5 linked regions of the Homo sapiens genome follow. The protein of the gene in region 1 purifies or fractionates together with the protein of each later gene. This does not show direct contact. Each region holds a gene or a part of one and is shown on either strand. Other genes may lie near its edges. The genes, in order: SORCS2, DCAF10, TMEM169, FNDC3A and TTC1.

Evidence for each region.
Region 2: the proteins of SORCS2 (region 1) and DCAF10 purify together in Homo sapiens (affinity purification with mass spectrometry; one large-scale study listed by BioGRID and IntAct). This does not show direct contact.
Region 3: the proteins of SORCS2 (region 1) and TMEM169 purify together in Homo sapiens (co-immunoprecipitation; one large-scale study listed by IntAct). This does not show direct contact.
Region 4: the proteins of SORCS2 (region 1) and FNDC3A purify together in Homo sapiens (affinity purification with mass spectrometry; one large-scale study listed by BioGRID and IntAct). This does not show direct contact.
Region 5: the proteins of SORCS2 (region 1) and TTC1 purify together in Homo sapiens (affinity purification with mass spectrometry; one large-scale study listed by BioGRID and IntAct). This does not show direct contact.

Annotation. Positions count from the first base shown.
Region 1 is NC_000004.12:7,199,038-7,202,537, forward strand, and holds part of SORCS2 (VPS10 domain-containing receptor SorCS2), read left to right. Parts: intron 1-3,500. UniProt on the Homo sapiens protein: The heterodimer formed by NGFR and SORCS2 functions as receptor for the precursor forms of NGF (proNGF) and BDNF (proBDNF). ProNGF and proBDNF binding both promote axon growth cone collapse (in vitro).
Region 2 is NC_000009.12:37,802,285-37,809,039, reverse strand, and holds part of DCAF10 (DDB1- and CUL4-associated factor 10), read right to left. Parts: intron 1-6,755. UniProt on the Homo sapiens protein: May function as a substrate receptor for CUL4-DDB1 E3 ubiquitin-protein ligase complex.
Region 3 is NC_000002.12:216,090,219-216,096,973, reverse strand, and holds part of TMEM169 (transmembrane protein 169), read right to left. Parts: intron 1,137-6,755; 5' UTR 1,011-1,136; coding exon 740-1,010; intron 1-739.
Region 4 is NC_000013.11:49,201,558-49,208,312, reverse strand, and holds part of FNDC3A (fibronectin type-III domain-containing protein 3A), read right to left. Parts: exon of another isoform or gene 6,520-6,755; intron 6,514-6,519; coding exon 6,347-6,513; intron 5,157-6,346; coding exon 5,029-5,156; intron 1,233-5,028; coding exon 918-1,232; 3' UTR 1-917. UniProt on the Homo sapiens protein: Mediates spermatid-Sertoli adhesion during spermatogenesis.
Region 5 is NC_000005.10:160,010,441-160,017,195, reverse strand, and holds part of TTC1 (tetratricopeptide repeat protein 1), read right to left. Parts: intron 6,697-6,755; 5' UTR 6,668-6,696; coding exon 6,338-6,667; intron 2,538-6,337; exon of another isoform or gene 1-2,537.

The sequences.
Region 1 (3,500 bases):
TGCTTACCCATGGGGTCTGCTGGGTGCACTTTGCGGAAGTCCCCATCCTTCTGATTCTCCTGTGAGCCGGGAGGATGGGGAGCCGTGCTCTCTCTCGACCTGGGCCCTAGTTTCGTCATCGTGTTTCGGGTGTCAGCCCTGGGGTGCAGAGGAAGGGCCTGGAGCCAGTGGGATGGGCTCCTTCTCTTGAAGTGCTTGTGGTCCAAAGCGGGGTGGGGGCAGAGAGCCCCAGGGATGCAATTCAGGAGGAGCGAAGTGGGGCCGGTGTGGAGGCACAGTGCAGGGAGAGCAAGGTGGGGCAGGGGAAGCTCAGTTCACCTGGGGAGGGGGTCACATGGGCCACAGGTGGAGGAGGATGAGGATGACTGGCAAGGCTGGGGAGGTGTGGCTGAGGGGAGCAGCAGAGATCTCTGAGGTGTAGAGGGCAGGTGAGCCTGGTGGAGGGGCTGCCCGTGGCCATTGCCTGTGCTGTGAAGCAGGGGCTCCCTGAGCAGGGCTCCTGCCCATGGTGTTTCCTGGCTGGGGTCCGAGGGAGGCTGTTGCTGTGGTCTGGCCTTCACAGACTCACTCTGTGGCCTGGGTGGGGCGGGCCGCTCTGGGATGGGGAGCTGCGTAGACCCGCTTCCCTGGCCTGGGTGGGGCGGGCCATTCTGGGAAGGCAGAATACAAACTCTGCCTTCGTTTGTATTCTCATCCAAGTTCAACAGATGAGACCTTGACTGTGGATCCCCCATGTTCTGTCCTCTCTCTGCACCCCCTCAAGTGCTGGTCTGTTCCTGTTGCCTCTGAGGACCCCTGAGAAGCTCCCAAACCCACTCTCCCACTCCCCAAAATCAGTTCACCTGACCTAAGGTGCCCTGCCTTGCTGGGTCCTTGCCTGAGGGACCGACACTCCCGGGGAATGCGAGCAGGAGGGGTTATGGGATAGAAACTGGCTTTGGGCTGGAAGTCCACCCCTCTGGTGCACAGTGGGGAAGCGCAGAGGTGGGGGAGGCTGGATTGTCTTCGGTTGCCCCGCGTGCAGGGCAGCAGCGTGGATGGGCTCTCGTGCTGCTCTGGAGGCCCTGATCCCCCCTCGCTGGAAGTGCTCAAAAGGAGGCTCCATGTCCATGCTCCAGGCCACTGCAGGGACTTTCGGTTTGGGGTGGGAAGCGGGACCACCAGGGGCCGACTGAGGGGTCCAGAGTTGTGGTTGTGAGCCCAGATTCCCAGCCGGACCCAGGGGTGCACTCCATGCTGTTCCACATGGCCTCTGGCTCTGACCCCGGGGTCCCTCCCCTGCCCTCCAACACATTAGTGCTGCCTTCCCTCTCCTCCCTGGGGAGCCCTGGGTTCTCTCCCTGCAGCGCTCAGCTGGGCACTCACTCCTCCCTTCCCATCATGCTGGCCACCCATGTAGCCAGTCTTCCCCAGGCCTCAGTTTCCCCATCTGTAAGGTGAGCGTCAGGACCAGACCATCTCCAAGGTCACTACCAACCCGGACGTTGTTTATGCTTAGTACACATTTGCTAATTTATTTGTATTTTATTTATATGAATGGAGACCGGGAATGAAGTAGAAGAGACTTTGGAATGCCCAGCCCAAGAACCTCACCGCAGCCTCTTTCAAGTAGTAATGAAGGAGGCAGATTTCCATGAGAGTTGAGCTTCAGGCACAGCTGGTCTCACCCGTGCCTGCTGTTCACGCTTGGATGAGGACTGAACCTCTCTGAGCCTTTTTCCTCATTTATCAAATGAGGATCATGGTTCCTGTGTGTCAGGCCAGTGCTGGGGCCACACACTCCATGGATGGGGGCCTGGCCAGCAGAGCCACCAATGTCCTCCTTCATCTTATTTCCTAAGAGTGTCGACCTCACTTGCATCTTCACTGTCTTCTTGAAACTAGCTCAAGGCCCGGCTCGTGGTGGCTGTTGGCCTCAGCTCTTTACCGAGCTTCTCTGTGTGCCTAGCGCTGTTAGCTGCTGAGGATTCAGTGAGGGGCCAAGTCAAACTTGGCCCCTGCGCGGGTGAAATGTTTGGTCTGGACAGGAATTCACCCCAGCGCGTTCTAGGTGCCGTGTGAATCTGCGCTGGGGAAGTCTGGGAAGATTTCCTGGAGGAGGTGAAGATGGAGCTGCTCTGCAGGATGAGTAGAGTCCCGGGCTGAGGAGGAGGTTGGAATGGTGAGAATATTAAGGCTGAAGGAGAGGCCTAGGGGCTGGAGCAGCCTGGAGCGCTCATGGGCACAGGAGAGACTCGTGCGTTGATCAAGAAGCCTGGCTCGAAGTCATAGAGACAGCCCTGTTAATAAAGTTGCTGAGCACATTTCACAAATCCACTTTTACTTTAATAAAGGGCGATTTAATTTGTAGTTGCGTGAAGGTTCCTGAGAGTATTCTAAAGAGGTCATAAATTAGCCTCATTCCTCGGCACGCCCCTCAGATGAGAAGGCAGCCCAGAGCTTGCGTGGGCCTCTCGGCGTAGCCGTTACTTTATTTTATGGTGATTTTTCAGAGTCAGGCTAAGACTTGTGCAGATGATTCGATGGAGAGCAGACTGGAGTGACGGGCGAATCAGCTGGGACGCTGCCGAGAACCCCTGTGCCTTTTCCGGTGCAGGAAGAAATGGAGGGGAAGCTTGTACGTTGCCTCCTCTTTTGGGGCCGCCTTGTCTTTCTTTTTTCAGACTCCAAAGGATGAGTTATTTATAGGTTCTTACGAATGGCCCACTTTGTCCTCGCCCCTCCTTAGTCGCTAGTTTGGGTGGGTGCTCTGTGGATTGCAGGGATGCCGATGACCTGAGAAGCCTGGCTGTGCTGCAGCTGCTGTTCCTGACCGACGTCCTCCCCTTTTGGAAGTCCAGGGAGCAGAGATCCCTGGCTCTGGCCACCGGGAGGGCAAGGTCTCCGTCTGTAGCTTTGGAAAGGTGAAGGCATGTGTTCTGCATTGGTTCACATCCTGCTTTTTCTTGGAAAGCGCCGTCCTGGATGTGAGCTTGGATTCTGGGTGTAGAAGAAGTGCAGACATGGGGCTGTCAGTCTAAGTGGGTGGTGGGGGTGGGGAATGCCCTGTACCTCTCTCCCCGCTCCCAGCAGGTTCCCACAAGCACAGACCATCCCTGACCTGCTCTGCAAGGCTGTAAAACACAGACTTAGGCAATTTGCTCACTGCTGATTGATATGCAGCCCGCTGAGGGCAACAGCAACGTCTTTTCCATTCAGCCTCATGACTCGGGACCGCTTCCCAGAAGGCCTATGGTGCTTGTCACCTCTATTCCAATTAAGCTCCATTTGTCATTAAAAAAATGGAATAGGGATACTTGAGTGAGTGAGGACTCTCCTTGGAAGACTGGAATAAAAGGTAAAACTCCAGTGTCCTTTTGAGGTGGAAAATCTCCTTCTTATTTTGCATTTCTATAGCAGTCAGTTACTGTATTTGCACAGAAAATTACAATCATTTAATTAGTTTCTTCTCACACCAGCTCGAAGATCTTAAAATAACAGCACTCTCCTTCCTTAGTAAT
Region 2 (6,755 bases), on another chromosome or scaffold:
AACTCTGAAGCTCAAGCAGTCCTCCTGCCTCACCTTCCTGGGTAGCTAGGACCACAGGCACATGCCACCACACCAGGCTAATTTTTAAATTTTTGTAGACAGTCTTTCTTCCTTGCCCAGGCTGGTCTTGAACTCCTGCCAGATCCTCCCACCTCAGTTTTCCAAAGTGCTGGGATTACAAGTGTGACCCACTGTGCCAGGTCTCTGGTTATCTTTTTAATTATACTTGTCTCTTGACTTCCAAAAATATAAAATATATAATATATATTATATAAATATATATTTTATGTATGTATTTTTATATATTTTTATATATAAATTTTATATATAAATATAAATATATAAATATATATTTATATTTTATATTATATAATATATTTATATTTTATATTATATATTTTTATATTATATTATATAAATATATTATATTTTTATATTATATTATATAAATATATTTTATATTATATATTATGTATTATATATTTTATATATTACATATATTATATATTTATATAATATATTATATAAATATATGTTTTATATATTTATATATTATATAAATATATATTTTATATTATATATAATATACTTTTACATAATATAATATATATATTTTTCTTGAGACAGGGTCTCATTCTGTCGCCCAGGCTGTCGCCCAGGCTGGAGTGCAGTGGCGCGATTTTGGCTCACTGCAACCTCTGCTTCCGGGGTTCAAGTGATCCTCCCACCTCAGCCTCCTGAGTAGCTAGGACTATAGGCATGAGCCCCACAACTGGCTAATTTTTGTATTTTTTGTAAGGATGGTCTGGAACTCCCAGGCTCAAGTGATCCACCTGCCTCAGCCTCCCAAAGTGTTGGGATCACAGGTATGAACCACCATGCCAGCTAGTTATCTTTTTATTTACTTCTAGTGATCACATTGTGGTGAGAAACTGTATTCGGTATGATACCAATCTTTTGAAACTTGTGGTCTCATATGTGAAAATTTTATAACTGTTCCTTGTGTGTTTGAAAAATATAAGGATGAAGCGGCTGTTACATACAGTTAAGTGTGATATTCAAAGAGGTTAAAAATTCAGGCCAGGCACAGTGGTTCACACTTATAATCCCAGCTCTTTGGGAGGCTGAGGTGGGTGGATCACCTGAGGTCAGGAGTTCAAGACCAGCCTGACTAACATGGTGAAACCTCATCTCTACTAAAAATACAAAATTAGCCGAGCGTGGTGGTGCATGCCTGTAATCCCGGCTACTTGGGAGGCTGAGGCAGGAGAATTGCTTGAACCTGGGAGCTGGAGGTTGCATTCAGGCAAGATCGCGCCATTGCAGTCCAGCCTGGACAACAAGAGTGAAACTCTGTCTCAAAAAAAAAAAAAAAAAAAAAGAAAAGAAAAGAAAATTCAGTGGTAATATAAATTAACATAAATAAAATTTAAAAACATTTTCTAAATAAATTAACCTATATAGATTATAAAAATGCTCACCAGGTGATAACCATTGTAGCTCAAATTGTTCATTAAATCATTCTAGTAATTTTCAATCATTTATTAATTTTTGGAAATTGTAGCCATAATCTTTTATTTGACACAGATGCCCTTGTCTGAACCATGAATTGACATAGGAAACTAGATAAAGCCCTTCTAAGAATGTCCACATTAAATTTATAGTCATTAAATAACTTGTAGTCATGATACGTTAAAAAAAATCACACTTTTTAAAATTTTTTGTAGAGACAAGGTCTCCCTATGTTGCCCCAGCTGGTCTTGAACTCGAGCTCAAGCAATCCTCCACCTTCAGCCTCCCAAAGTGCTAGGATTATAGGCATGAGCTGCCATACCTGGCCTAAAAAAAAGAAATCACTCTTAACATCAACAGAATTGTTCATGGGAGCTGAATCCTCTTTTTGGCTTTTGCTGAAGTAACAGTAAGTATATTTTAAAATGTTTTTAGCCCTTCAAATGCTTGCTGTTAGTTTCATATAGTCAATATTTGTTTAAATATATTAATAACTAAGTCACAAAAATAATTTATTGATATACTTAATTATATTAAACCTAATCCCTCAGTCCAGGTGAGAGGTAACGTAACACAGCAGTTAACAGCATACACCAAGGTACAGAACCTTCATTTAATAAACTTTCTGCTTCTTAATTCCCCCAACTAAATGTGTCTGGTAGACAGAAAAAGATGTATTTTGGTAGTCATTTTCATTTATAACATGAGTGTCATTAATGCCTACTGTAGGCAGGTATTCATTGGGTGTTGGCACACTTATCCTATCTAAATAATGGGGAAATTAAACAAGAATGATAAAACTAAGGATGTGCATCCCAGAAGTTATTCATCCATAAACCATCCCCACAGGCCTCGATCATCTGCTGTAGATTCTATCCTGCCATGGGAATGTATACTGTGCCAAGAGAATTAATATATTTTGATGGCAACTGCGGTAGTACAGTACTATTACTCTCATTTGACTGCTCTTCTTTCTGGATCTCCCGGGGCTGTAGTTCCCAAAGGGGCCATGTGAGAGTGATATGAGAAAGGTAGGCAGCCCTACTCTTAGGGAAGCCAGATGGTCACTGGGCCTATGGATTTTTTTGTGTGTTGGAGGTTGCCAGGCACGGGTGAGGAGTAATTAGAATGGCTGCTGCCCTGTAGTTCTCCAGTGAGATGTTTGCTGACAGTCTCTTGCTGTCCTAGTTCTTAACTCTTTAGTTGCTATATAATTGGTTACTATAGGAAGTCCCAAGGAAGGCGATGAAGCATTAAGATGACACTTAACAGGCTTGGGACAGTAACTGTTCAACCACTATGGACATATCAATATTTTAACAACTAGTATAGCTGAACCAGTATCAGCTGAATAGCAGGCCTGAATGTAGTCTACGAATGCCATTAAGAGTAAGATTTTAAGAGGTACTGTTCTTTTATTTATTTTTTAATTTTATTTTATTTTTTGCAAGACAGGGTCTCTGTTGCCCAGGCTGGAGTGCAGTGGCACAATCCTGGTTCACTGCAGCCTCCACCTTCCGAGCTCAAGTGGTCCTCCTGCCTCAGCCACCTGAGTAGCTGGGACAAAGGGACACGTCACCACAACCAGCTAATTTTTGTACTTTTTGTAGAGACAGGGTCTCCTTATGTTGCCCAGGGTGGTCTCAAACTCCTGGGCTCAAGTGATCCACCTGCCTTGGCTTCCCAAAATGTTGGGATTGTAGGCGTGAGCCACTGCGCCAAGCTACTCTTTGTCTTTTAATTAGAATATTTAGTACCTTATAGTTATTGCAACTAGTAATGTTTGGATTTATTTTCAGCTATTCTTTGTGCTTTTTATTTATTATATCTTGTCTTTTTTTCTTTTCCTTTCTTGCCTTCTTTTGGAATTTTTTTCTCATTCTGTACTTTTTCTTGTACTAGTCTGGAAATTATAATCTTTCTTGTCTTTTGGTTCCTTGAAAATTTTAAATACCTATTAAAGCCCAAAGTTAACATATATTATTATCCCCCCAAATACATAAAAACTTAGAATGTCACTTATCATTTATTTTTATTTTACTTTGAGATGGAGTCTCACTCTGTCACCCAGGCTGGAGTGCAGTGATGTGATCTCCGCTCACTGCAACCTCTGCCTCCCAGGTTCAAGTGATTTTCCTGCCTCAGCCTCCCAAGTAGCTGAGATTACAGGTGTATGCCACCACACCAGGCTAATTTTTTTGTATTTTTAGTAGAGACAGGGTTTCATCAGGTTGGCCAGGCTGGTCTCACACTCCTGACCTCAAGTGATCCGCCCGCCTCGGCCTCCCAAAGTGCTGGGATTACAGGCATAAACCACCACACCCGGCCTCACTTCATAATTTATATGCTATTATTGTCTTCTATTTTTGTTCCATCTCTATTAATCCCAAAAGACATTATCAGATTAACATGTACATACATATTTAACACTTTTTGTTCTTCATTCCTTCTAGCTTCTCAGACCTTCCGTTTGAAAATAATTTCCTTCTCTCTGAACTTAGAATTCCTTTATTGGAGGTCTGCTGGCAAACTTACTCAGCTTTCCTTGTCTGAATATGTATTTATTTCATCTTTGTTCTTGGCAAGGACAAAGAACCTATGTTTGTTGGGTATAAATCTAGACTGAGGGTTTTTTCCTAGCATATTGAAATAATTACCACTGTCTCTATATTTATATTATGGTTGAAGACTAATTGGCTATCACTCTCATAGTTGCTCCTTTGAGGCCTTTTTTCTCTACTTTTTTTTTTTTAAATGGAGTTTTGCTCTTGTTGCCCAGGCTGGAGTGCAGTGGTACGGTCTTGGCTCACCGCAAGCTCTACCTCCCAAGTTCAAGCGATTCTCCTGCCTCAGCCTCCTGAGTAGCTGGGATTACAGGCATGCACCACCACGCTCGGCTAGTTTTGTATTTTTAGTAGAGACAGGGTTTCTCCATGTTGGTCAGGCTGGTCTCGAACTCCCAACCTCAGGTGATCCACCCACCTCAGCCTCCGAAAGTGCTGGGATTACAGGCGTGAGCCACCGTACCCGGCCCCTTTTTCCTCTGTCTTTTAAGATTTTATATTTATTGTCCCACAGTTTCACTACAATATGTCTAGAAAGAATTCTTGCTTGGGTTTGTTGGGCTTCTTAAATCATGGCTTGGTGCCTTTCTTCAATTCTGGAAAGTTCTCAGCTATTATGTCTTCAAATAGTCCCCCTTACACCATATGATATGCTTATATGGTATAAGCGTACCATATAGTTAGCCAGAGTTCCTGAAGAAACTGGGACTATTTTCTTTAGGAACTCTGGCTAACTATATGGTATGCTTTTTCTCTCTATGCTCTGTGTTACTAAATCTCCTTTTCATATTTTCAATCTCTGTGTTTTCCAGGTCTGTATTCTAGTTAGTTTCTTTGCTTCTATTTTCCAATATGTGAATTATCTCTATAGCTGTGCCTAATGTGTTCTCATGGAGGACAGTTTGACAGGGTCTGACATACTATAATTTATTAACATTATCAATTTTACTTTTTCAAAATGTCATTTTAGAAGGTGATACACTTATTTTGACAATGTTTCTATCACTTAAAACATTTTTTGAATTCTTTAGAAAATACCTTCTAACCCATTTATCTTTTTTATTGCCAAATTCCTTATATTGTGGTCTCTATTAAATTCATAATTTTAATTTTTACATTCTGTGTCACCCCCTCCTTCTCTGTATTGAGAAGTCCTTGAGGGTGACAGTGGTTATGCTACCTGGTAAGCTGATTTAACTCATATTTAACTGAAAGATATGAGAAATTACCTCATTTAACACGGATATGTCATCTATCTGTAAAATTACTTTAAGTCCTACACAAATGTAGGGCATACTAGATGAAGTAAGAAGACTGAAAAATTAAAACACTGAAGTATTTTCACTCATCACCCTGATAAACATGAAAAAGAATGGCAGTATGCAGTGTTGCCAAGGGTATGAGGAGACAGGCATGTGTCTAGAATGTAGGAATCAGAATATAGTAATGAGAATTAGTATGATCTTTGCAGAGGGCAATTTAACAATAGATATAAAAATCTTCATAACAATAACTCATTCTAGGGATTTATCCTAAAGATATAAATATAAAATATTTGTTCAAAGAGGTTTTATTTAAACTAATGAAAAATGTTAATGTTGTAGAAATATATTTATTAACATAAGCAGTTCACAATTTACTGTAAGAAAAAAAGCAAGCTACAAAACAGTGATTCCATGTTTATATTAAAATAAACATACACAAATTAAAAATTTCCTTAGATATCCATTTAATCTCTGGGATCATAAGCAATGTTTAGGTATTTTTTGCTCATTTATTGCCTAGGTTTTACACAATGAGCATATATGTTAATTGTGTAATTTAAAATTATGGAATTAAGTGCAAGAGTTCCTAACCACCTTTTACAAAACTGTTATGAGAAAATACATTCTAGATTCAAACAAAAACTAAGCAATATATCCCTTATTCTAACAGCTCTAAAATCTGTTCTTCTCATTATACTCCCACCTAAAATCCCACATCCAAAAAGTAGAAATAGCTGCTTCTGAATTCCTGAAAGTATCGGTAGGAGGTTGGGAGGAGAGGGGCCGGGATATGAAGAGAGAAACTGAATATTTGAGGACAGACTGTTCGTGTTTTGAGGGAAACTTTAGGAATAGGGCTTGGCTGAAGGAAGGAGGCTGCGAGGTTCCATGAATAAGTTTCAGCAAAATAGTTTCTCCTCTCACCAGTTTTCCACCTTATTCAGGTGTGCATCCACTGCTACATGCTCCAACCAATTGCTGTTGAGACCCCAGAGACCCCAGCACCACGTGTGATTAGGAAGCGCTTCCATCATTGAAATGGAATAGAGTCTACTTGCTCACAGTAACTCCTGTTTCTATTCCTTTGCTCCTTCCTTAGCAACTTCAGGTCTTTCTTCAGTAAAATTTTTTGCTTTGTAAACCTATTTTTTTTCACCTCCTGTAACATGATATGCTGCCCTTCTACGACCTTTGACATACCAATCATCTCCATCTGAAATACTTCTATCCCTTTCCCAACCCTATCTTGACTAATTTATTTCGTACTCATTTTTATTTTCATTTAGGTGCCACTTCCTCAGGGAATCCGTGAACACAGTGTCCATAACAGATTCCTTCAAGACTTTATCTCAATTAACAAATATATTTTATGCATTATTTAGTAAGGCTATCTACTATCTAGTTGAACCATTAA
Region 3 (6,755 bases), on another chromosome or scaffold:
CCAATTTTTGGCAAGCCTACATGTGAAGGAATACTATATCTCATTGTTGTCATAATTTGCCATATGATTTTCTTCTGGCAAATTTTCTCATAATTTTCTTTATTCATATGAAAGTCAACAATTATTGTTTATTTTACATACATTAAGTAGTTAGCATAGTCTGCTTGTGTTACCAGTTTTTGCGTATAAATCAGCCTCTTCCATTTCATTAGGAATTCTGAAAGGGTGGAGATTTCTGTATCATCTAGAAAAAAATGTAATAGGTGCTCAGTAAATACTGACCATTTGTTGAATGAAGACTGTAATATTGCACCAGGTCAGTGGCTCATGCCTATAATCCCAGCACTTTGGGAGGCTGAGGCAGGTGGATCACTTGAGGCCAGGAGTTCGAGACCAACCTGGACAACATGGTGAAACCCAGTCTCTACTAAAAATACAAAAACTAGCCCGGCATGGTGGCACATGCCTGTAGTCCCAGCTACTCAGGAGGCTGAGGCAGGAAAGTCACTTGAACCCAGAAGGTGGAAGTTGCAGTGAGGCGACATCATGCCACTGCACTCCAGCCTGGGTGACAGAACAAGACTCTGTCTCAAAATAAATAAATAAAAGGTGGTAATATTGCAAGAAGAAATGTATCACCAAGAAGAAATAGGACAGTGAGCATATGCCTGTCTGTTCTGGAAGATGCCCTTTTGGTTTCCTTCCCATGGCTTTAAACAAGTGGGCTAGAGAGACTTACCATCATCCACAGGATAGTCTAGGAAATCATCTCCCTCCTCCTCTTTAGGCTGATCTCCACCTTCTGATTCTCCGGGCTCCTCATCTGTTTTCTCATTGTCTGAGCGGTAGATGATGATGGATTCTGGGCGTGACTCTTTCCTCTTCTTTTTCCTGTGCCCCATTGTGGATTCCCCATCCAGCGCCAGGGCAGCAGCCACAGCCTTCCTGAGAGAGCCCTGGTGGGGGCTTGGAAGCTGGACCTGGCCTTCTACTGCTGTTGGCTCTTCCATTCCAGACCTGACGTCTACCTATGTCTTATAAAGAGTTGGACTTGTTTGAGTAAACTCACAGTTCACACATCACAGAACTTCTTCCTAGATGGGGCTATGCAAAGATGTCCCAAGGATGCATTCCACCTGAAAGATAGGAAAGCAAAGCCATCAACAGGAAGCAAATGGGGTGAGATGGACAGGAATGTGGGAAACGATCCTCAACTTAGCAGAAGCCTTCCTCTCCCTTTACTTCTTGCAATACTTTATTTTGGGAATGCAATCTAAATCTCTTATAATAGACAGTGAATAAACTTTTGCTACAGTAATATTTTTGTCATTTATACAAACATATAATATTTGGCAAAACCCATGTGAAGGAATACTATATCTCATTGTTGTCATAATTTGCATTTTCCTTATTCATATGAAAGTCAACAATTATTGTTTCTTTATTTTATATACATAAGTAGTTAGCATAGTCTGCTTGTGTTACCGATTTTTGTGTATAAATCAGCCTCTAGTTGGAGCATGCAGAGTATAAGGAAGTTGGGTGAGGAAGCCTTACCAGTAGGTGAGAGTTAAGAACCACAGGTAGGCTGGGCACAGTGGTTCACGCATATAATCCCAGCACTTTGAGAGGCCGAGGCGGGTGGATCACCTGAGGTCAGGAGTTTGAGACCAGCCTGGCCAACATGGCAAAACCCCATCTCTACTAAAAATACAAAAATTAGCTGGTTGTAGTGGTGGGTGCCTGTAATCCCAGCTACTTAGGAGGCTGAGGCAGGAAAATTGCTTGAGCCTGGTGAGCTGAGATTGTACCACTGCACTCCAGCCTGGGTGACGGAGCGAGACTCTGTCAAAAAAAAAAAAAAGAAAGAAAAAAGAACCATAGGTGGCTGGGACCAGTATTCCAGACTTCTGGCTATTGAATCATACATTAAAACTATACTCAAATGGATAAATACAACATTAAGCAAGCCACTCAAATGGTACAACCTCACCAACTGTGTCTACCTTGCTATTCTGTAAAGGAAATCTGTCTCCTGGCTTCTTGTCAGCCCACAATCTCAAAAAGTTACTGGGATGTGTCCTATCACGTGCTGCAAGAGCGGTGGAGAGGCTTCACTTTCCCCCTTAAAATAACAGTGTCTCTCCACTTTCTGTTCTGGACAGTGCAGGTCTGTATATCTGTCCTTCATTTTTTTTTCCTGGTAACTTATTTGTTAAAGAAAGCGGGTCATTTATCTTGCAGATTCTCATAGCCTGGGTTTTGCTGATTGCATCCCCACAGTGTGTTCCTCTGAACTCTGTGTTATGAGTTGATAGCTAAATAGAAAGTCTTGATCAATTTCACATTGAAATTTTTTTGGTTGATGGTTTGTTTTGTTTGGCAGGACAATTTTAGAGGTGGTGTTTGTACTTCCATTAGAAGTCCCCTAATGTCTGGTTGACTCTTTTTGTGAAGTTAACAGCCCGTTAATGGCCATTGACTATACCCATTAAATCATGGGGGTTACAAAATGATATTCCATTTCTCTGACTTCTTCATTTATTAGCTAGAATACTCTCATGCACTTTTAACATACCCAGTTTTAATCCTAGTGAAAGAGGCAAATGGTCCTGCTGTTATGCAATATTATTGGCATTTATACTGTGAAAAATAACTTATGAACTATAGTGGTACCCGCTATGGATATAAAAAGTTTCCAAGCGATTTACCAAAAAATTCCCCACTTTTCAAATAACTGTGCATATTATTCAGAATCGCAAGCTTCTACTCACAACCCTGCCGCCCCACACTCCTCGAGGCTGTACACTCTTCAGCAACTCCAGGTTACTGGCTGTTACTTTTGTTCCCAACTCCCAAATCCCTCACTGTATTTCAGTGCTCTCTGAGCCTTATTTTACTGCCACATGTACACCATTTGCCATCCCTTTATTTCCAATAATAAAGCTTCTTCTCTCATGTGTATTCAAATGTTCCCAATGTCTAGTGTTCTGGCCCAGTGGATGGGAGTGGGGCAGTGGAGAGAAGAAAGAAGCAAAAATTCCACTAGGCTCTAGAATTCCACTAGGCTCCATTCATTTTGAAGCAAATTTATATATCTTTGGTAATTACCATGTGACAGGAAGTACTGTATAGCATATCTCTTAAAATGCCAGAATACATATTTTTTTTTCTCATTTCAATGTTTCTAAAATTTAGGTAAATTTTAAGCTCAATGGAATGGCTTTTTCTCCCCCTCCAGGCAGGGGAGTTCTCCTCTGCTGCCCTCTCACCCAGTATTTCCTCTAGCCTCTGTTGATTTTCTTTGTCTTTCCATTGGATTGGCAGATGTTGGATCTAAATTAACTTTATAACTGGGCACTTAACCCAATGCCTGGAATAAATCAGGCACCCAGCGACACAATTGAGAATCTTAGTGGTAGGATCCACAGGATGAAATGGGCAGGTTTCACTACGTCCTCACTGCCTGACTTTGTCTAGGGGGTGTACTAGGGGCAGAATGAAAGCCATTATCTTTAAATTCTTATCCATGGAGCTTTCTGGACCAGGAGATTCATTTGGCTGAGGTGTCTAAAAGTACAAGGATGTACACAGGAAGAAGCAGGGGAGAGAGCCCTCCCAAGGTAAATAGCTCCAGAGGACAATTAATCCAACCATTAGAATGCTGAGCAGGCCTTGGGCATTGATGAGCTTGACCAGGGCTCTTCTACCAAAGTGGCTTCTACACAGAGGACAGTGGACCTCTACCCAGAGGAAACTGAATGGGGAGGCTGAATGCAATCCACCCCCAGGTGAAGATTTTATATGTATACACACACACACACACACACACACACACACACACACACTTCATTATTACGTTAAGTTCCAGGATATACATATATATGTATATCTATATATGTACTTATACATATGTATATTTATATACAAATGTGTATATACATACATTTGTAATTCTACTCTCTAAGTGTCTATGTTTAATACAAAAATGTTTTCCCTGGTCCAAGTCCTCTTATACACTGACACTCAGAAAGCTGCATCATGGTAATTCTATGGTAGGAATGACCTCTGAACAAACCACTTTGTACTTACTTGAAGGTGCAATGATCACAGCTTGGGAGGCCACCCTAATCCACCGTGTTTTCCTACTTAGATCATCTGTTTCTCTCTGTTGTTTTCTGAGGCAGCTTGTGAAGGGCCTTCTTTGGCCCTTCTATACAGCATGAATTTTCAAACTAGGGGTTGAGACCCCGAGGAGATTAAAGGACCAGAGCTTCAGAGCTGGGAGAAGGTTTATGTTCTGTACTCCTTACTCCTTCTTTAAAGATGTACCAAGATGTTCAGAAGGGAGACAGAAATGTTAAAGAGTACACGTGAGAAGGCAAGTTGCAAATCTCATACTTCTTGTTCCCTTTTCCTCTCTCTTTGTTGAGGGGGTGGTGCTCTAGGAAGATGTGGCAGGGCAAAGTGAACACATGCATGGAGATGATGACCCTTATTAATGGGCCTTATAAACATTAAAAAGTGGCCAAGTGCGGTGGCTCATGCCTGTAATCCCAGCACTTTGGGAGATCAAGGCGGGCGAATCACTCAAAAAAAGAATTAATTTAATTAAAAAAAAACATAAAAAGGTGTAGTGTTCGACACTCTTGATTTGGTTGGGCACAATGGGAGAGGCCAATGTTAGATAACAGGAAGAGCTTCCTGAGCCCAGGGACAGACTAGTACAGAAAATAGTAGCTAAGAGAAGCTTTGGAGTCTCTTGGGGATATAAAAGATAAACATGGTCATCTTGTTGGCTGATGGAGGAGAGGGACAATCCTATCAGAGGCAAAAAGAGAGATGACTTTTGAACATCCCATTAAAACCTTAGACAAGAAATATGAAATGTAAAGGGTGAGCTCCTGGCTATTCACCTTAGGGGGGCTATTTTTGCTTCAGGCACAGCTCATTTTAGAAAGGTGCCCAGCCAATGTCTACTTACAGTAGTCACAGGACAGAGACACTGTCCTTGATTTACCTTGAAACATGATTTCCTCATCTCCCTACAATTAGAACACTATCCTTTGAGACTACAAAACATTCCCACAAACTTAGGAAAAGATGGGTTATTTTGTAGTCATGGTAAGTAGACAATAGAACCAGTTTTAAACCTGTTCAATTGATCAACAACAATCTCCCTCAGTGTCTTAGTGCATTTGGGCTGCCATAAGAAAATACCATAGACTAGGTAGCTTATAAACAACAAGAATTTATTTTGTACAGTTCTGGGAGCAAAAAATCCAAGATCAAGTTTAGGGGTTTGGTAGGACTCACTTTCTGGTTCATAGATGGTGCCTTCTCACTGTGTTTTCACGTGGCTGAAGGAGCTGACTAGCTCTCTGGGTCTCTCTCTTTTTTTTTTTTTTTTTTTTTTTGAGATGGAGTCTCACTCTGTCGCATAGGCTGGAGTGCAGTGGCGCAATCTTGGCTCACTGCAACCTCTGCCTCCCAAGTTCAAGCAATTCTCCTGCCTCAGCCTCCCAATTAGCTGGGACTACAGGCACACGCCACCATGCCCAGCTAATTTTTGTATTTTTAGTAGAGATGGGGTTTCGCCATATTGGCCAGGCTGCTCTCAAACTCATGATCCGCCCGCCTTGGCCTTCCAAAGTGCTGGGATTACAGGTGTGAGCCACTGAGCCTAGCCTCTGGGTCTCTTTTATGGGGGCACTAATCCCATTCCTGAGGACTCCACCGTCATGACATAAAGCCTCACCTAATGCCATCACTTTGGGGGCTGAAATTTCAACATATGGATTTGGGGGGAAAACAAACCATACCATAACACTCAGCAAACATGTTTTTGGAAATTAACCCATCCAGTCAGTCCTTTGTTTCTGAAAGTCAATCAGGTGAGTGGCTCTGTCCCTGTTTGGCTGACTTTCACACTAGTGTGAGTTGACTTTTGGCCAATCAGGGTCTGGCACTCTGATGATGGCTTTCAAAAATGTATTCACTTAGGCAGTTGTTGATTGAACATGTTTAAAACTAGTTCTGGTGGCTACTTGTTATCAAGGCTACTGTAAAAACAGTGTTTTCCTAAATTTGGGGATCCTTTTTACTGTTAGTTTCCTGCAAGTCTGGAATATATCAGATGTCACAGTACAAGAATATGAATTATCTGTTGTGATGTAACAAATTACCCAAGAAGTAAAGGTTTAAAACAATAAAAAAGTTATTATCTCACACAATTATGTGCGTCAATAAACTGGGAGTGCCTTAGCTGGGTGGTGAGTAGTCTTCTCTACCTGCTTCCTGCCTATAGAATTTGGAGGTCCAAAAGTGTTTTTTTGTTTTTATGGTTTCTGAACCTTTTAGTATTCTGTGAATAGAATTTTCTCAACATTTCTGTGGGATTCCTATAAATAGTTTCTCTGAGTCAGAAGTGTGAGAGTGGCTTAGCTGGTTTTGTTTCAAGATCTCTAAAGATGTCAGGGCTGCAGTCATCTGAAGGCTTGAATGAGGCTAGATCTGCTTCCAAGATGGTTCACTCATGTAATGCTGACTCAGTTTCTCTCCACATGGGCCTCTCCATGGGCCATCTGAGTGTCCTTACAACAGTGGCTGGCCTTCCCCAGCATGAGTGGTCTGAAAACAGGTATTTTCTTTGACCACCCCAACTTGACTCTTGATCCCCATCTCTTCCTCATCTTTGATTTCCTCCTTCTCCAATAGCTCCAACTTCCTTCTACTGGCTCTTTCCCCTTTGCCTT
Region 4 (6,755 bases), on another chromosome or scaffold:
CAGAGTGAGTGTATGTATGTAATATATACTTCTACACTTGTTATGTGTATATGTGTACACTTGTTATATGCCATATATGTATGTGTATACCCTTATACACATACATATAGTTCAAAGGTTCACAAAACAGAAGCCAAATAGGTTTGAAATTCAATTTACTTTTATGATTACTTTCTAAAAAGTATTTAAAAGCACTCAATTCTTTTCCATGTTCTCAAGACCTGAAGAGGTACTTTTTGAGTAAACATCAAAATATTTTTAGGCCAAGTAAACTGTCTGTTCTTTAAGTACTTATCTGTGAATTCATGAATATATATTTATAATGAAGAACTCCACATTTATCAAAGAAGCTTTTCTTCATGCATACTCTTTCATCCAGTTTTTGTTTCTAAGCCCCTCCAGTTACTCATCATAATCCCACTTACCAAATAATTAAGACAAATGAGGAGGTAGAAATATAGCACTAGATTGCTTTCACAGCATCAGACTTTAACATTTTATATAGCATGTTAGTGTAAATTCTATTCATTCTGAATTTTTCACTTGGTAATAATCTTTAAAACAAACAGATCAGGTTATCACTGTTACACTCATGCCGATTCGTCAAAATATCCATTCTAAATTGTTGCCTCTTAGAAAGTTTTTCTATAAGAAGGCATTTGTTAAAAAAAGAGAGAGGGAAAGAAAAAAAGAAGACCCACCCTAACAAAAAAAACAAAATTGATATTTTTGTGGCTTGCATTCTAATAAAGTGCCAGCCTCTACCTAACAATATAAGCACTGAAAATGGCAAAAATGATGTGCTATAGTCTCAATGCCAGTGCTAAATGCCACTGTTTTTTATAAAAGCAATACAGAAATAATTTTAGTACATGACAAAATAAAATGTAATAGAGTTAAAAAATAAAGTTATATTTTCACTTGATTACAAAGTACTGAATGATAAAGGCAATCAAAATGGAAAAGAAAGCAAACAGCACAAGGATGACGGCAGCACACTGCTCGTCACTCAGTGCCCGTCGGGTCCTTGTGCTTTCCACAGTGTCTCTGTTGGTGCTGGCTGGTGGTTCAGTCCTCTGAGAGATGAAGAGCACTGTGGTGCTGTAGGGACCTACGAGGTCCTGGTGTCCCAGAGAGTCTTGGCACTGGCGAATGGCACATACACGGAAGCGATATTCACAGTTCAGCTGAAGGCTGGAATACCGGAAGGAAGAGTCGGGACCCTTGTAAATCTGTTAATAAAATATTAGAAGGAAGAATTACGTGTGAAGGCTGGACAGAAAATGTGTTAAAACTGGCTAGTGTTAGAATTGTTTTTCATGTGAAAGCCAGTGAATGCCATTGATTTTATCTTTTAAATGACATGTTAAAAATACCTGTCCATTAAAGTACTTATCTGTTTGTTGCATAGGGGCAAGAGAAATTTCAAAAGCGAGGATCTACCCTTATACGGTTCACAGATGAATTAAGGAGTGCAGATGTGCCCCAGGGCAGCTAGAGAACAAGCAAAATCGGTCCTCAAGCATTTTCTTGCTTTTCTCAAATGTAAGAAGTCATTTTTCAATGCAATCATTCCATCAAAGAAGGGATAGTGTCTACTTTTGCTTCCCCCATTATGTCTTTGTATAACTGATAAATTTCCATATAATTTCAAACATATCTGTACAATGAAATGGAAAATGAATAAGGGGAGCTTTCTATAGGTGCCTATGGCAAATCACTGTATAAACCAGAGAGGGGAGATCACTTAGAATCAGAAAATAGGACCTCCTCTGCCATGCCTCACAAGGGAAATAAAAAGAATGAAATTCCACGGATTTTCAGAGGAATGTGCTAGTAATTAACCCATTTATGCCAGAGGTTGCAAATTTTTTTTTTGTGAAAAATCAGACCTTGGCAATAACCTTGATCAGTGAGATATAAATAACTACCACAAGCTTAGTGTTCCAATAATGGAACACTAGGCATAAATAAGAAGCTATATACTAGAACTGTTCACCCCTGGCATCCAAGGTCTGCTCTACCACTTCACACTCCAGATGTGATTTTAGACCAACTACCTTAGTATAACAGACATACTAGTAGTTAACATGTATGATAATTATGAGGATGAAATGAACTAATGCTTGTTAAAGCACTTAGCGCAGTGCTCAGCATGCAGTCACTGCTCAATCTGTAGGAGCTATCATTTCCAATAATGAGCAACCTCCCACCACTCATTCTGTAATTGAGAAAACCAAGGTTCATAGGGTTAAATGACTTGTCAGTTGAGTTTCTCCAGTTAGTTGGTGGGCTACAAGTCAGAAGAACCAACACATGGGGGCTTTCAAGTACTTTTAGCTGCCTCAATTGTACCTGTGATGTAAATCTAAATTTTTACATATTGCTTTGCTCTCAAAGTAAAGTAAGATCTCTGTCTCATTTTTCTGTCTCCAGAATCTAGCATATAGTAGGTACTTAATAAAAGGACATTAAATTAGTGAATTATTGGCAATAAATAAAAATGTGGATGCTGATAACAATATATAAAGGAACTTACTGAAAGAAGCTTTAAGATAAATCTGAAAGAAAATGGTGACTATACATTAGTTCTAAGGATGCATAATGTTTCAGGGAATAGAATGTAGAAATGATCCATGTTTGGGAGATGGTACAGGTTGGGTATCCCTTATAAGAAATGCTTGGAACCAGAAGCATTTCAATTTTTTTGATTTTGGAATAGTTGCATATTTACTAGTTGAGCATTCCAAACCCAAAAATCTGAAATTGGAAATGCTCCAATGAGCATTTCCTTTGAGTGTCATATCGATCCTCAAAAAGTTTCAGATTTTGGGTGGAACATTTTGAATTTTGGACTTTATTTGGGATGCTTCAACCTGTAAAAGGATTCACTTAAAACAGAATGTTGTATGATAAAGTAGTGTAAAATTGTATACATAACACTGAAGTAAATTGAGTAAAAATTAAAAATATGTATTTGTCTTATGGATATAATAGATGATTTTTGTCTTTATACTTTCCATGTGTCTTCATATACCATTCCATGAGCCTGGCAGTATTAGGTTAAGAAAGAAAAACCTCAACAAATGGCATGAGGGTGATAAGAGATCTGGTACAAAGAGGAAGAATACATTAATTACACTAGTTGGAAATTTAGGTTAATTCAAAAGGGACCACTGTAGGTGTGTGACATTAAAACAGTGTTTATGGAATCCTAATCGTGAGGCTGTGTGAAGGACTGAAGGGAGCTGAGTAGGACAGGGACTCTTGATGTACATGTAAAAAGTGATGAGGCCCTGATGTAGTTTTATGGATTTAGAAACAAATTCTGATTAAGAGTTGATAGGAAAAAAAAATTCATCTAAGAATTTAAAGCTTGGAGACCAAGATGATATTGGTGTCTATGACACTGATGAAGTAAAGATGTTGGAGAGGAGATACTGGGAGGGAAGATGATGGGATCAAGTTTTCAATTTTGTATTTCAGATGTGGGAAGACCTCTAAGCAGGAAGAGACACAGGTAACTGTAAATACAGGACTGAAGAAAACAGATTAACCTGCTCAAGCTAATTTCAGAAGGTTTATACACCCAAGAAAAGTCATTCAAACAAGCCTTAAGGTTATTCATATACTACTCAAATGTGGAATCCCTATTTCCTTTAAACGTGTAATACAATTATATTTTCTTTAATATTAATTTTGCTTCCTCCTTAGAAGGAAACCTACTTATCTGTAAATTACATTTCAAATCTAATTATCCTGTCAATTTGCAGATGGCTTAATAAAGAAAAACAATTGCATGCCAGATTTAATCTGACTCTTTGGATCTTTTGTAATTTCAGTTAAGATATTACATAGAGTGGTTACAATAGCACAATACTGGAATAAAACAAATGAAGGATCTTTTTTTTAGTGGAAGAGGAAAATATAAGACACAATGAAAACAACCCAGCTTAAAAGCCCTCAAAATTAAGGTTACAGGAAAAAGGGAAAATCAGGTGAAATGTATAGGTATTTAATTAGTCTTTGGAGTGGTATAAAAGCTTATTCTTTTTAAAAGTTGTAACAAACATTGGCAACACTCCACTCTATCTCACTGCTATTCTTGCTTTATCAGAAAGCTATCTTTGAAACCTCTTGGCTAGGAAGGTGACAATTCCTCTAGGTTTCCATTATAACTTCATGCCTAATGTCATATTTACAGCACTGCATTATGACTATTATTAATACTATTATTGTAAAAGCCTCCTTATTAGTCTTTCTAGTTCTGCCCTTGTCCTACTGTAGTTTCAACACTATAGTCAAAACAACGTTGTGTCTGATCACGTGAATACCCTGGTCAAAATCCTCCACTGTCTTCTCATTTCACGTGGAGTAAAAGCCACAGTATGGCCTATTATGCCTTACGTCACTCCATACCACCTATAGGCCCCTTAGGATTAACTATCCGACCTTATCAACTCTTCCCTTTGCTCTCTCCATCCAGTCATATTGGCTCCTTTATGTTCATCAGATTTAATAGGCATGTTCCTGCCTCAGCGTATCTTCTTGGAACACTCTTCTCTCCATAGTCATCTCCTCTGGGCCATGCTGAAATGTCAGCTGAGTGCCCCAAATGAAATAACACTCAGTGCCCTCCCCCTCCACTCCCTATTTCTTTTATCCAATTTTGTTTTTTCTCCATTACACTTATATCTGACAATATATTGTCATGTTTACTTGCTTATAGTGTCTTCTTTTCCACCAGAATGTAAGTAAGCTCCATGGAGGCAAGGGACTTTTTGTTCAGTGCTATATCCTGAGTGCCTGGCACAGAATTCAATGAATACTTATCAGATAAATGAATAATCTGTTCAAGTGTAGTTCATACTGAAAAGATTTGGAATCTTGAGATCTCTGGAACATAATATATACTGAATAAATATTTATGAATTAAAAGGTAAAGATGGCCAAATCTTACACTGAAAATACATAAAAATTAAAAAAGGGTAAAAATATGCATCCACACATTAATATCTTGGTACATACCTGTTTGAATTCTGAATCTTTTCCCAACATAACTTGAAGACTGTAAATAACTGGATCACCTTTCATTGGCTGTAAACACTCCCATGTAATTTCACAAATGTGATCATTTACTTTCTCTATTTTGGGGGCTGTAGGAAACAAATATAAATAATATCTGTTCCACTTGATTTTTAATTTGGTACATCATGCAGACACTTGTCTTAATAAAAATCAACAAATATTTAAAATCCACTTATAAACTTGAAATAAGTATCAGTGAATTTTTGAAATTTGCATCCAAAGAGGTTAAAATCAGCACTCTTGTATTCTAAGATATGGGATCTCACTCTGTCACCCAGCCTGGACAACAGTGGTGCGATCATAGCTCAATGCAGCCTCAGCCTCCTGTGCAGCTACACACACAGGCATATGCTGCCATGCCCAGCTGATTCAAAATTTCTTTTGTAGAGAGGCAGGTCTCAGTATGTTGCCCACGTTGGTCTCAATACTCCTGGCCTTAAGTGAGCCTCCCACTTCAGTCTCCCAAAGCACTGGGCTTATAGGTGTGAGCCACTGTGCCCTGCTTATAGTCAGCACTCTTCTTAAAGCTAAGAGACACTAAACTTGATGAGCAAACAGAAAAATGACTCAGTGAAACTCAATATTATTAGAAAGACTAGTCAAGAAGAGTTCTGCTGTTTAACAAATGATAGGTTTAAGTACATGATCTAGGATATGGTTCTAGAAGTCTCTGTGATTAGTCTTCAGAGCAATTAACTTTATAGACTTTTCAGCTAAAAATAGAGTGTAGCCCTTGCCAGAGTCACTTTAAAATAAGAACCCCTCTAAAATTAAAAGATAAATGTATATACAAATGTGTGTAAATATGTGTACATGTGTGTGTAAAACTAATTGAAAAACCCACATTAATGAAGAATTTGTTTTGCTTAACAGATGACCAAGCTTTCCTTCTGAAATCCAAATGAATGTAATATCAATAACTCAAAACGTTTAAACAACCAGAGTTTGTGATTTTTTTCTTTAAGCAAATGACCTCATTAGAAAACCAGCCTTCCTATTCAATTTAGTATTTTTATGCTACATTATTAAAAACATCAGTGACAAAAGCCAGTACTTGTCTGAATATGAGCGTGCCAGATAAAACAGCTTTTATTATTGAGTGGAACTCTCAGTAGAGTTGGGCTTGCCTATACGATTTTGTATAACTGGTGGACATATACTGGATGCTAAATTTTAATATCAGTAAACAAAGCATTTATGAAAATACATTAAAAAGTAATTTATTATAAAGAAAATAAGTTCAGGATGTATAACTTACCTTTCAAGGCAGCTGGGACAGATTTTGGAGTAGTGAAAATATATTCTTGGGAGAGGGGACCTTCCCCAGCTTCATTACAAGCTTGAATACAGAATTTATAGGATGTTGACTCATTAAGTCTTTGTACTTTGTATGTATGACATGGTCCTCTGTATAGGGATACAAACCTAAAATGGAAATAACTATTAGATAAACCTTATACTACCTTATGATACCTTATTAAAGTGTTTTACAAACTAGTATAAAAACACAGTTATGAACATTATTTAGGAGTGATAAGTTACCCCAAAAGTTTGATGCCAGGAACTCTATGTCACTTAAAATAAATCTGTTTTTCATCAGATTAAGAAAAATAGGATATTTGGTAAATTTCCCAATTTGACATGATTTACCAAAAGTCTGTTACTAA
Region 5 (6,755 bases), on another chromosome or scaffold:
TTATTATTGCAATTCTCTTCTGCTGCTACATTTGTCCTTCACCTTAGCCAAGCCTCTCAGAACCAGTTATTTGCTTCACATACCTAGTACATCTCAAATGTTAGCTAAAATTCCATTCCTGTGGGTAGTTATATCTACATTTAAGCTTTCACAAATAGTTAAGATTTACTGCTGAAATAAACACACGAATACACTATACTCTCTGAGAGCTTTTCCTGTTTTTACCAAATCTTAACTGCTTTCCTCCTCAATTATTCTTGATTTATGAGTCCTGCTGAGAAGTGACACTACACTTGAGCGTGAATTATCTTCCCAGCCACAGGACAAGTGAAGTTAGCTTGATTAACAGACTTTGGCTACTATTATTTGGTTGTGTCCAACAAGAAACCTTTAATACTACATAGACCCTGTACGGAATAGCACTTCTTTCCCAAATCATCAGGGGTCAGCTTCATGTGCTTTTGTGGTAGGGCACACAGTTTGGTTGTAAAGTAATCAATTTTTATTTATTTATATTCTTAAAATGGAATAATGTAATACAGGCTTACTGAAAAAAAAAGCAAATATTACAAAATTGCATTACATATAAATTAAAATTCCCTAATAATCATACCTCTCAAAGTTACTTACTGCTTATACTTTGGTGTATATCCTTCAAATTTGTATGTATAAACATATTTTCACATAGCCTTAAAAGAAATCATCACTGTTGTATAACCTGATTAATTAATTTGACATTATATTACAGGCAGCTTCCCAGGTCAATACCTACGATTCATCTTTTTAAAAAAATTTTTTAAATTATTTATTTATTTATTGAGACAGAGTCTCATTCTGTCACCCAGGCTGGAGTGCAGTGGCGTGATCTCGGCTCTCTGCAACCTCCGCCTCCTAGGTTCAAGCAATTCTCGTGCCTCAGCCTTCTAAGTAGCTGGGACTATAGGTGTGCACCGCCATACCTGGCTAATTTTTGTATTTTTAGTAGAGATGGGGTTTCACCATGTTGGCCAGGCTGGTCTTGAATTCCTGGTCTTGAGTGGTCTGCCCACCTTGGCCTCCCAAAGTGCTGGGATTATAGGCATGAGCCACTGCACCCGGCCAAGATTTACCTTTAACAACTGCATTGTATACTACATAAATATAACAACAAAATTTAAGTAATACTCTGGGAAGAACACATTTTTCTCTCCTACTATACCCTCCCAATAGGTCTGACACCAGATGAGAGTGTTTTCCACACTAAACAATTCTCCAATGGACACCAACGGAGTGTCCTATAATTCAATTCAGTTCTGTCACTATCTCCAGGTAGACAGTGTCTGATCCCACAGGTTAAGAGTTTAGTCTCATAAGCCTGGCCCCACTTCAGACACTAATCACAAGTCCCAGGTTGTGACCTATGATTCCGACTGAATGGTTAGCACAGGGTTCTTACCACCCTCTCTGTGGGTTCAATAATTTGCTAGAATGGCTCACAGAACTCTGGGAAACACTTTACTTACACTTAGTAGTTTATTACAAAGGACATTATGAATGATATAGAACAGCCAGGTGAAGAGACACACAGGGAAAGGTAGAGGGAGAAGGGGTGCAGAGCTGCCACGCCCTCTCTGGGTGCTACCCTCTTAACACTTCCATGTGCTCATCAACCTGGAAGCTCATCAGATTTCTAGTTCAAGAGTTTTTATAGGCCAGGCGCAGCAGCTCACACCTGTAATCCTAGCACTGTGGGAAGCTGAGATGGGAATATTGCTTGAGTCCAGGAGTTCGAGACCAGCCTGGGCAACATAGTAAGACTTCATTTCAAACACAAAAAAATTTAGCAAGGTGTGGTGGAAGGCGCCTGTGGTCCCAGCCACTTGGGACATTGATGTAGGAGGATTGCTTGAGCCCAGGAGGTTGAAGCCTCCAGTGAACTATGATCGCACCTCTGCACTCCAGCCTGGGCAACAGAGCGAGACTTGGCTCAAAACACAAGAAGAAAAAAGCTTTAATGGAGCTTAATCTCCAGCACTTGCCCTCCTCCTTTCCTGGATTTTGGTAGGTGGTGCCAAAAGTTCCAACCCTCTAAAACTCTAATCACTTAGTCTTTTTGGTGACTGGCCCCATCCTTCCTTAGGCTATAGATAGGCCAGATCCTAAAAGTTATCTCATTAGGATGAACTCAGGTGTTATCAAAAGGGGTACATTAAGAATAACAAAAAAATACACTACACTATCAGAAAATTCCAAGGGTTCTAGTGGCTCTGTAACAGGAACCAGGGACAAAGACCAAATAAATTTACTATACTACAAATACCCTGTTTAACATTGTCTAGCTTTCCAAAATTATGAATGATGCTGCAACACATCTATGTATATACATTTGTGTATATTTCTAATAATTTCCTTGAAATAAATGGCTACAAGAGAATCAGCGTTAATGCTGTCATGTCCAATATGGTACTTACTAGCCACATGTGACGATTTTAAAATTATTTATTTATTCATTTTGAGACAAGGTCTCACTCTGTTGCACAGGCTGGGGTGCAGTGGCGTGATCATGGCTCACTGCAGCCTTGACTTCCCAGGCTCCAGGGATCCTCCCACCTCAGCCTCCTGAGTGGTGGGGCTACAGGCTTGTGCCACACGTGATTATTTTTATTTTTAAAGGCTTTTTAAAAAATTTTAATTAAAAAAAAATTTTTTTTTTTTTGGAAAGACAGGGTCTCACTATGTTGCCCAGGCTGGTCTCAAACTCCTGGGCTCAAGTGATCCTCCAGCCTCAGCCTCCCAAGTGCTGGGATTATAGGAATGAGCCACTATGCCTGGCCCATGTGACTATTTATTTATTTTCTGAGACGGAGTTTTGCTCTTGTCTCCCAGGCTGGAGTGCAATGGCCCAATCTCGGCTCACTGCAACCTCGACCTCCTGGGTTCAAGCAATTCTCCTGCCTCATCCTCCTGAGTAGTTGCGATTACAGGAGCCCGCCACCAGGCCTGGCTAATTTTTTAATTTTTGGTAGAGATGGGGTTTCACTATGTTGGCCAGGCTGGTCTCGGGTCGAACTCCTGACCTTAGGTGATCTGCCTGCCTCAGCCTCCCAGAGTGCTGGGATTATAGGTGTGAGCCATCCCGTATGACTATTTAAATTAATTACAATAAAATTCAGTTCCTCAGCCGTAATAGCCACATTTCAAGTGCTCAATAGCCTGATGTAGTCAGCAGCTACCATACTGCATGGTGCAGGATGTAGAACATTCCTATCCTTGTAGAAGAGTCTATTGATAGCCCTATCTAAAGAAATGGTCACATAAAAATTTGGTATCTGCATCCCATGAAGTGACATAACAATTTAAATTCTCAATATTAGTATATGAGTTCCAACATCCTCTCCTTGTCAACATCAGATCAATATTCTGATCTGATAGATGAGACATAATGTTTTAGTTAGTATTTTTTTTTTTTTTTTTGAGACAGAGTCTTGCTCTGTCACCCAGGCTGGAGTGCAGAGGCCTGATCTCAGCTCACTATAACCTCCATCTCCCAGGTTCAAGCGATTCTCCTGCCGCAGCCTCCCAAGTAGCTGGGATTACAGGCGCACACCACCACGTCCAGTTAATTTTTGTATTTTTAGTAGAGATGGGGTTCCATCATGTTGGTCAGGCTGGTCTCGAATTCCTGACCTCATGATCCGCCCGCCTCAGCCTCCCAAAGTGCTAGGATTACAGGCATGAGCCACCACGCCCAGCCTGTACTTTTCATCATTATTAATGAGGCTGAGTCTTTTCACATTTTTTGGCCATTTTTTTTTTTTAGTCATTGTTGAACTATCTGAACTTTATTTTAAAAGATTCAAATATAACACTATCCTGTTTCTGATGAGCTATTAAAGCCAAACCATATATGTAGAAGACATTTCTTCAATCTGTTTCGCTGGCTTCTTGAAAATTTTGGAAAGATATTTATCAAAATAGCATACAAACACCTAATAAGAGTAGTACCACAGTTAGCTGAAGGCAATCTGCACTCTTATAGGTTGTTTCCTTAAAGTAGAGTCAGTGGCTTACATTTCTCTAAATAATAAGACTAGCACTGCAGTATGTTACTGTTATGAGATATTCTTACAAATTTTCAAATTAGCTATGAAAACACTTAGACTGATATATAAATGAATAGAAAATATTTATGTTTTAAACATGAATACTACTGTATGATTATGTTTATATGAATGTCTGGAACAGGAAAAAACCACCTATGGGACAGGAATCAGAAGAGTGGTTAACCAGAGACTGGCAGGGTTGGGAAAGGAATGACTGATAAAGCACACAAATGGAGTTTCTGACATGATGGAAATGTTCTCTATCTTGATAGAAACGTGAACTATGCAGGTGTATACAATTGTCAAACTCACTGCATTCTACACATGAGAACTGATATACAGTTTCACTAAATTATATCTCAATTTTTAAAAGGAGGAAAAAAGTGAAAAAAAGTATTGTTCTACTTAGAATATTAAACTTACAGGCAATAAAAATAATTATCCTCACTGGGTGTGGTGGTTCACGCCTGTAATCCCAGCACTTTGGGAGGCCAAAGTGGGAGGACTGCTTGAGCCCAGGAGTTGGAGACCAGCCTTGGCAACATGGTGAGACACTGTCTCTACCAAAAAACCCACAAAAATTAGCCAGGCAGGGTGGTGCAAGCCTGTTGTCCCAGGTGCTCAGGAGGCTGAGGTGGGAGGATCCACTTGAGCCCAGGAGGTTGAAACTGCAGTGAGCCGTGATCACATCACTGCACTCCAGCCTGGATGACACAGTGAGATCCTGTCTTAAAAAAAAAAAAAATCATAAAAGTATTTATAGAACTTAAAGTATGATTTTCTGGCCTAGGAGACACAAAAAAAGTTTTACTAAATTAGAGGTAGGGATCAGACTTTGTGACACCTTGAGCCAAACCATTCAACTGTCAAATCCAGAGGGCACTAGAAAATTAATATAATTTCAGGGCAAAATATATTAAGGTATCAGAAAAGCACTACTAACTTTTTAACATAGATGCATAATCAGTGTTTCTAAAAAGCCTGAAACCTGTTATAATGTTATGGAACAGTAGTTAATTTTTTTGAGCTGTATTTGCTGTGGTAGTTTATGAACTTGGCTCACTTTTGCCCTTTTTCCTCCTGTTCTGGTGGTGCACACTAGCACAAAAACGAACACGTTCACATTAAAGCTAACTGATTTGATAATGAAAAGCGTCTAAGGAGAGAGAAAGAGAAGATGCTCCTACCCACCCCAGGCTACCTTCCCACCCCCACTGTTAGGCTTAGGCTGAACATTTATTATCTCATCTCAATACCAATGTATCACAACCTGTTCAGTGAGTGAGCTCCTTAGTGGCATAAACTACAATCTAGTTCAAGTTCTTTGTAGACAAACTCAAGACATTACAGTAACTCTTCAGAGACTACCTTGCTTGTGCAATCAGAAGGAAGTAGGACAGCAGGACTTCAGTCTCCAAAAGTGAAGGCTTGCCCAGTTAAGGGTGTGGCCCCAGGGCAAAGAAACAGGAGAGTGTACATTTTATTAGTCTATCTGCTTTGTAGGAAGACAGATGTTTTTGTTATTACATTATACATTATACTCTAGCTTTGGAATCCAACAGATTTGATTTGAGAATTAGTTTTGCAATTCATTAGGTGTTTGATCTTGGGCTAGTTACTTCATCCCTCTAAGCTGTTTCCTTATGGGAAATAACAGTATGTATCTCATAGGCATGTTGTGATGATTAATGAAAACACAAGTAACATTTTAAGTCAGTGGATGGCACATTGTAGGCATTCAACAAAGGATAGCTAGCTATAATCATACACAATTCTGTTTCTCAAGACCTCTGCAACCAAAACCCCACCAAGATATTCAGGCAGTCATATTTTGCTAACAAGGGATTAGCATAAACAGGAAATGTTCATAAACATAAATGTAGCATAAACATAAAAATGTTCATTACAGAAATCTCAGCAGCCAACCGTAGAAAAGTTCATAACAGAAAACTAAAAAGTATATATACATTTTGAAAATAAACAAAAAGACTGTTACATTACAGACTCCTGAAGTACAAGATGAACATAACTGAAGGTTCACAGAAAATAATGAAAATTTCTTTGTTAAGCAGACACACTCAAGTGCTTCCCTGTCACGCCACCGATTTATCTCAGATCCAACACTACTAAAGCCATAAGAAGACAAAGGGGCAAGTTATTCTTTACCACAGATGAGGTGGTCTATGATACAGTATCGACCACATTTTAAAATGCAGTGTAAGTGGCAGATCTTGCACAATAAATAAAATACTTACCTGTTTCTCTTCATCCGACATGTTTTTTTCCAGTTCTATTAGGTATTCTTCATCTAGTTCAGAGGAATTCACATCTTCATTAGATTTGTTCTCAACCTTGTCCGCTCCTGGCTCCTCCTCAAATGAGGCACTGCAGTCATGAAAACACTCCTCTTCTCCCTGGTCCTCCTGGAGATGGGCCTCATCATCCCTGAGCAGCTTACTCTGGGAATGCTGATTTTTGGGATCAGGAACTGGAGGGCCAGCACACTCGGCTTCCTGAGTATCTGTAACCTTCAAACCATTTAACAGATCCTCTGGAACCCCACAGTTCTCTGACTTCTCCCCCATGCTGCCCAGTGAGGGAGGTGACGCTAAAGCTGGGGGAAAACAAAACAAAACTGCTATATAATGGTGCTTGTATTTTTAAAAGTTCTGT